Homo sapiens: one gene and its partner. The protein of the gene in region 1 purifies or fractionates together with the protein of each later gene. This does not show direct contact. Each region holds a gene or a part of one and is shown on either strand. Other genes may lie near its edges.

What was found. The genes of interacting proteins can lie anywhere in the genome.
Region 2: the proteins of COL9A1 (region 1) and CTPS2 purify together in Homo sapiens (affinity purification with mass spectrometry, with the first as the bait; one large-scale study listed by BioGRID). This does not show direct contact.

Annotation. Positions count from the first base shown.
Region 1 is NC_000006.12:70,300,285-70,304,534, forward strand, and holds the start of COL9A1 (collagen alpha-1(IX) chain isoform 1 precursor), read right to left. Parts: upstream 2,801-4,250; 5' UTR 2,641-2,800; coding exon 2,627-2,640; intron 1,791-2,626; coding exon 1,717-1,790; intron 103-1,716; coding exon 25-102; intron 1-24. UniProt on the Homo sapiens protein: Structural component of hyaline cartilage and vitreous of the eye.
Region 2 is NC_000023.11:16,688,670-16,692,169, reverse strand, and holds part of CTPS2 (CTP synthase 2), read left to right. Parts: intron 1-549; coding exon 550-630; intron 631-2,568; coding exon 2,569-2,720; intron 2,721-3,500. UniProt on the Homo sapiens protein: Catalyzes the ATP-dependent amination of UTP to CTP with either L-glutamine or ammonia as the source of nitrogen. Constitutes the rate-limiting enzyme in the synthesis of cytosine nucleotides.

The DNA.
Region 1 (4,250 bases):
TCAATAGGGTACATTGCTACTCACCTGGTAAGTCATCTTGGCCAATCCTGATCTTTGGACAGAGTTCATTTCCACCATTAGAATTGGAATTGACAGGGAATCCTGCAAAAGAGATAGCATGTCATTCTACTTCATCCACTCTAACTTAAAGTATAATAATAATAAAATAAAATAAAATAATAATAATAATAATAAAATTTAGAACCAGAAAATAGCAATTGACCACAAAAAAAAGATTTCAGGATGTATCAATAATAATAAATATTTAAAATTCAATATTATACCAGCTTGCTTAGAGGTAAAGTGTTTGGCTTTACCTCCATGCCTCTACGATTATAATCTGTCCACCTGCAACTCATCCTGGAAGGGGTGGATGCAAGGCACAAAGTTGCTCTAATAATCTGGCTGGGAAAATGTTCGTTTTGAAGAGGTTAGGCATTTGTTCCTTTTGAAACCAAAGCTGAATGGTGTCCTGAATGGCACAGGGTCAGAAATCTGTTTGGAAAATTCCTGGTGGTTTGGGCTAGAAAATGTTCCTTAAACACCACAAATTTTAGGATTCCAGTGAGATTCCAGAGCCAACCTTGGTCCAGTTCAGTGGGGCTTCTGGAGAGTAGAGTTCTTAGGAATCTTTGTCAGATATAGGGGCCTGGGGAAGTCTTGAGATTCACTAATCCTAAATAAAATATAGAGGATGGATTTGATTTCATAAATTCGTTCTAAGAGATCAAATAAAAGTCCCGACTAGATTAATCCTAACATCTTAGAACTGGGAAGAGTAAAAAGAAGAAGAAAATAATCATGAGAAGGATTAAATCCTCAATTTGATAAGAAATCATAGAATGGAATTGTGTTCTCCTTACACAAATGGAAGGTCAAAGGGAAGAGAGATTTTTCACCACCACAGAAGGCTTCTTGGAAATATCCAACCTCAGTGCCTTGCTAAGATTCATCTGACAACAGAGACTCTCTAGACTTCAAAAAAAGTATTATTCAGTTACAAAGCATAGGCCCGGCGCTGTGGCTCACGCCTGTAATCCCAGCACTTTGGGAGGCTGAGGCAGGTAGATCACCTGAGGTCAGGTGTTCAAGACCAGCCTGACCAACATGGTGAAAGCCCGTCTCTACTAAAAATATAAAAAATTAGCCAGGCATGCTGGCACATGCCTGTAGTCCCAGCTACTTCGGAGGCTGAGGCAGAAGAATCACTTGAACCTGGGAGGCGGAGGTTGCAGTGAGCCGAGATTGTGTCATTGCATTCCAGCCTAGGTGACAGAGTGAGACTTCATCTCAAAAAAATAAAAATATAAATATAAAAAAGCATGGGCCTAACCATAATGGTACATCAAACATGCTCTTTATACTCTCCTCACCCCAAATTGTTGAGGTCCATCCATCCATCAGTCTATTTATTCATTCATCCATGTATTCACCCAACATTTACCAATCACCATCTGTACTAGGCACTGCACTAGGCACTGCAGCTCACAGATTGGCCTTCCTACCAACTGTGATTACTGACAGGACTTACTTTCCATACCCAGCATTGACCATGGAAAACCAGAACCTAATGTATCCCTGTGCCCCAAAGCTGGATTGAAGAGTGAGGGTGTGAAGGACTATGAATGCCTCACTCAGTCTTCAGTCAGCCACAGCCCTGCCTGATCATTTCTGGGAATAAGTGATCTTTGAAAGTCTAGAAACTATGGCCCTTACTGGGGCGACGCTTGACAGCTGCAGATGCCCAGGGTTCCAGGAAACTGCACACAAAGAAGAAAACTGGAATTTTCCTGAAGAAGAGAGAAGAAAAATGACTGAAACAGGAGTCCCCGCAGATGGAAAACACTTCCATATTTTCAAACCTAGTAAACCTAATTAATGTAAGGTGATCAAATCACAGTATAGTTTTTTTTTCATTTCTTTTTTTTTTTTTTTTTTTTTTTGAGACGGAGTCTCGCTCTGTCACCCAGGCTGGAGTGCAATGGCGCGATCTCGGCTCTTTGCAACCTCCACCTCCTGGGTTCAAACGATTCTCCTGCCTCAGCCTCCTGAGTAACTGGGATTACAGGCACGTGCCACCACACCCAGTTACTTTTTCTATTTTTAGTGGAGACAGGGTTTCACCATGGTGGTCAGTCTGGTCTTGAACTCCTGACCTCGTGATTCGCCCGCCTCGGCCTCCCAAAGTGCTGGGATTACAAGCATAAGCCACCGCACCCAGCCTTCATTTTTACTTTGAAACCCTACTGAGAGATGTAAGGAACTCATGTTTCCAGACCCCACTGTCGTTGTTGTTTTATTGATCTCACCTTCTCGGTATCTACCTATCTCACTGTTTTGGTACCTATTTCTTTGTCTCTGGTTTCTTTCACCTTTGATTTCCTTCCTCTCTTTTTCTGTGGCCGTCACTTTCTCTCCCTTCCTCTGTCTGTCTTCGGTTTTTTGTGTCTGTCTTCGGTTTCTCACGCTTGCCCTCTTGTCTTACTCTCTCATCCGTCTCTCTTTCTGTCTCTCACCTTGAGGCTCACCTACTCTCATCTTACCACTGCTGCAAAAATACAGACCCTTGGTTCTGAGGACCCCCAGCTCCATCTCCCCACCACTCTTTCCAGGGTTATTGTCTTACCAGCAGGTCTTCATTTTCCCAGTTGATTTTCTTTGTTTGCCAACAGTCCCTATGAAGAAGGGGTTGGAAGGGAGTCACTGTCCCCTCACGACCCCTTCACTGTTACCCTAGGACTATGTGTTCTGGGCCCAGCCTTGGTCCCTCCTGCCCCCGGTGAGGGCTAAAAGCAAAGGGAGAGAACCAGAGGCATCTCGTGACACTTTAAACTGAAGCAAAGGAAAGGGGTGGGGAGAAGCAGCGCTCTGAGCCCAGGCCTAGGGGTGTGTCCTCAAAGCTAACAAGGTTATACTGAAGGAGGGATTTACAGGGGAAAGTTTGCTGAAAAGAAAAAAATAAAATCAGGATGTGGGGAAATTCACCAGAAAGATCCAGGCAAGGTGCTATAGGAACACAGTAGATGCTTTTAGATCTGCTATAGGAGTACAATGGCAGCTTTCAGAACTGCTATAGGAATACAGTGGAAGCTTTCAGAGGGCTGAGGTTCCAGTAAAAATGTGCCCACTGGGAGGCAGAGGTGTGGAAACTCGTGGGAGCCTTGGTGCCCGATCAACCTAAGTTTCAATCCCTGTTTATTCTGAAGCTTACTAGCTGTGTGTCCTTGAGAGAGTTACTTCACCTTTCTGTAACTAGATGCCCTAACTGTAAAACAGATTGAAAATGCTTACATTAAAACAATGGTTTTGAGAATTAAATGAGGTATCAAAGGCAGAGGGTCTAACACCCAACAATCATTATTTGTCATCGTCTTCATAGCTAACGCTTCATTATGCACCTCCGTCTGTTGAAAATGCTCAAAGCTTAATGCCATTTAATTCTCACAACAACATTATAAGGTAAGACTGAAGTTACCCTTATTCTCCAAATAAGAAAGTTGAGGAAGCAGAAAATGAAGTAACTTTTTCAAAGTGCCATGCCTATTACTAAATACACATTCCCTCTCTCTACCTCATGGATAGAAATCCTGATAAAATGTAACATCAAGCCCCCTACTTGTTGTTTATTCTTAAACTCTGAGACTACCAGAGTTGAGCAGAGGACACTGTATCTGGAAAGAAGCAACATATTATCCTCCGTTAACAAGGTGAGAGCAAATTACAAGGAGCACAAACCTAGAGAGAGGCATGTTATCAGCATCGCTACCACACATGCCATGCCGTCTCTCCAGAACCTGAGCACCTAAAGAGAATTCCCTATAGCCCCCACATCACCCCCGTTACCACCCACTCAGCATGGCCAACCTCTGGCCTTGTCTTGAGGGACACGGGTGGTTACTCCAAAAACCAAGACTCTAAAGGTCAGAAGATCCAATGATCTCAAAAATCACAGTACAAGCAAAGTAATTTTTAGGTGAACTTTTTTTTTTTAAGAGACAGGGTCTCAGGTCTCGCTCTGTCCCCCAAGCTGGAGTACAGTGGCATAATCATAGCTCACTACAGCCTTGAACTTCTGGGCTCAGGGGATTCTCCCACCTCAGCCTCCTGAGTAACTGGGATGATAGTCATGCACCACTGCACCTGGCTTCTTGAAATTTTTAAATTTCGTTTTCTAATTGATTTAATTTTTATTTAATTACAAAACAATAGCGTTGCTTCTTATTTTTCATTTGTTTATTTCTTTTCCAAAA
Region 2 (3,500 bases), on another chromosome or scaffold:
CTGCTCTTATTTTTAGTCTAAACAGTGATGTGTCCTTATAGCAGGTGATCCAGTCATCACCAGTAGTCTCTGTCAGAGGTTGACAAATAACAGCCCACAACTTGCTTGCCTGTTTTTGTAAGTAAAGTTTTATTGGCATGCAGTCACACCCATTCATTTACATATTGTCTGTAGCTGCTTTCACACTGCACCTCAATTGAGGATCAGGACAGTGACTGTGTCACCTGCAAACCTAAAATATTTCCCATCTGGCCCTTTTGAGAAAAAGTTTGTTAACCCCGATCTAGCTCTTTTCTTGTAGTTAATGAAGCAACACTTGTGAGCCTGGACTCTGTTCACCAGAGACGTCTCGATGTTTCGAGTTCTTACTGATACACTTATGCTGAATTTGATTATACTTATATTAGTGCTCAGACCAATTTCTAATAGTCCAGTGGAATGTCCAAAGTGAACAAGTACATACTTGGCCAAGTTTCTTGTAAAAAGAAATGAATGTGGCATCCTGCTGAAAGTGAATCCTGTTTGCTGAAGCATAACTGGCTTTGACAGATTGTCTGCCGAAGTTCAACGCCCATTGAGATGGCCGTGAAGGAGAAGATTTCTATGTTTTGTCACGTGAACCCTGAACAGGTTGGTGCTGCTCTTTAGATTTTATTGTCTGGCAGGCACTTCTGCTGATGCCAGTGTTTTGTACCTCTTCAATGATCATATTACTTTTCACGGCATTTATGCAAGCACTGGGGAACCCTGATCCAACCATGATTCCCTAGCCCTTAAGTGAGATAGGATGCATGTTTCTTTGCATGATCACTCAACTTATGTCACAAAACCAGGGTGGGCTTTCTTTTCTTGAGACAGAGTGTCACTCTGTCACCCAGGCTGGAGTGCAGTGGCATGATCTCAGCTCACCGCAACCTCTGCCTCCTGGGTTCAAGCAATTCTCTTATTTTAGCCTCCTGAGCAGCTGAGATTATAGGCATGCGCCACCACGCCTGGCTAATTTTTTTGTATTTTTAGTAGAGATGGGGTTTTGCCATGTTGGCCAGGCTGGTCTCGAACTCCTGACCTCAGATGATCCGCCCGCCTCAGCCTCCCATAGTGCTGGGATTACAGGCGTGAGCCATCGTGCCCAGTACCAGGGTGGGTGTTTAACTCACAGTCAAACCTCTAGAGAGAGAACCACATGAAGCCTACTTATCATCTCTTTATCTTGTGTTTCCTTCTGGAACACTTACTGCTTTCACTCATTTCTCCTCTCTACCTGTGGCAGCTTAAGTCACCCCAAACACACGAGCACGTTGACATTCGCACTAGCTCTTCTGACTCCATCAGTGGGCTCAGTTGACTTCATTGGTACAGAAACTGTACTGTGATTTGGGCTTAGGTTCTCTGCTCTGTAGGGCTTTCCACCTTGGTATTCTGATAATTCGCTTTTCTTTTTTCTTTCCTTCTCTCATCTCTGTCTCTTGATTCCAATAAGGCTTGGTTATAAGGGATTGGAGTTACCTATAGTTTAAAGAGAGTGATATAAATGGTGCTCAGGAAAAGGGTGAGGTTTGGCAGAAATCTTTTCTTCAGATTATAACTCTGGGTTCTCTGAAGTCTAAAAATGATCAAATTGAATTTTGGCATCTTGGAAAATAGTCTGATGGAGAGCCCCCTGCCTGATGCCTCAGAGTCATTGCCGAAGTCTGAACTACTTTGAAAAATGTGATGGCAGATTGAAGGGACACTTCTGCATCTGTATGTTGATATGTTGTCATGCCATTTTGTTTGCGTCCAATCTTTTTTTTTTTTTGAGACAGAGTTTCACTATTGTCACCCAGGCTGGAATGCAGTGGTGCACTCTTGGCTCAGTGCAACCTCTGCCTCCTGGGTTCAAGCGATTCTCCTGCCTCAGCCTCCTGAGTAGCTGGGATTATAGGTGTGTGTCACCATGCCTGGCTAATTTTTGTATTTTTAGTAGAGATGGGGTTTCACCATGTTGGCCAGGCTGGTCTTGAACTCCTGACCTCAGATGATCCGCCTGCCTCAGCCTCCAAAAGTGCTGGAATTACAGGCGTGAGCCACCACACCTGACCTGTCCAATCGTTTTGTGTACACTTCTTTTTTTTTTTTGAGATACAGTCTTGCTCTGTCACCCAGGCTGGTATGCAATGGTGCGATCTCGACTCACTGCAACCTCCGCCTCCTGGGTTCCAGCGATTCTCCTGCGTCAGCCTCTTGAGTTGCTGGGATTATAGGCACATGTCACCATGCCCAGCTAATTTTTGCATTTTTAATACAGGTGGGGTTTCACCATGTTGGTCAGGCTGGTCTCGAACTCCTGACATCAGGTGATCTGCCCGCCTCGGCCTCCCATAGTGCTGGGATTAGTTTTCTAATTAAATGAAGCTAACCTTGTGCAAATTCTGATGCTAGCTTTGGTTGCTGGGTTTTTGTGTGTGCGTGTGTGTGTGTTATATCAGTGTAAATAAACTGCCAGTCTCTGCTGAATTTTGTTTCATTCTTGTGGTGGCATATTTGAATAGATCCATCTAAGTATGGTGATTTCTCATCGCCACTTAGGTCATATGTATCCATGATGTTTCTTCCACATACCGAGTTCCTGTGCTTTTAGAGGAACAAAGCATTGTGAAATATTTTAAGGAGAGATTGCACCTGCCCATCGGTGATTCTGCAAGTAATTTGCTTTTTAAGTGGAGAAATATGGCTGACAGGTAAGCGAAAGGAATTACTTGTATAATCTTTAATAATTTTTGAGTTTGGGGGTAGAACTAAGACCTACTTGAAAGGGTAAGCGTGTGTATTTGGCATTTTGCGTGTGCACATTTTGGTCTGGATATGTCTAAAGATGGAGCATACTGTTGCGGTGCTTTGCTGTATTATTTGAAGATTTCTGGAGCCTTTGATTTTGTTATACATAAACCAAAGTGAATTAAAGGAATTCGAATTCTGGAAGGAATGTTTTTTTAGCTCTGGAAGGATTCTGATTTATTTGATTTATTTGCTAGTTCATTTTTTAGTTTCTGAATATTTAAAATTTTTTTTTGTTTGTTTTCTTTTTTCTTTTTTGAGAGTCTTGCTCTGTCACCCAGGCGGGAGTGCAGTGGCACGATCTCGGCTCACTGCAACCTCCACCTCCTGGGCTCAAGTCATCCTCCCACTTCAGCCTCCTGAGTAGCTGAGACTAGAGGCACACACCACCACACCCGGCTAATATATATTTTTTTTTTTTTGTAGAGACGGGATTTTTCTATGTTACCCACACTGGTCTTGAACTCCTGGGCTCAAGTGATCTGCCCACCTTGGCCTCCCAAAGTGCTGGGATTATAGGCATGAGCCACCATGCCTGGCCTTAAACAGTTTTAAACTTCACAGGTTTTTTGTTTTGTTTTGTTTTGCTTGTTTTTAAGATTTGGCTAACTTTTCCTAAAGAAAATCATTTTGGATGGGAACTTTTGGCTATGCTAGTTTTGTTTCATCCTGCATTCATTAAC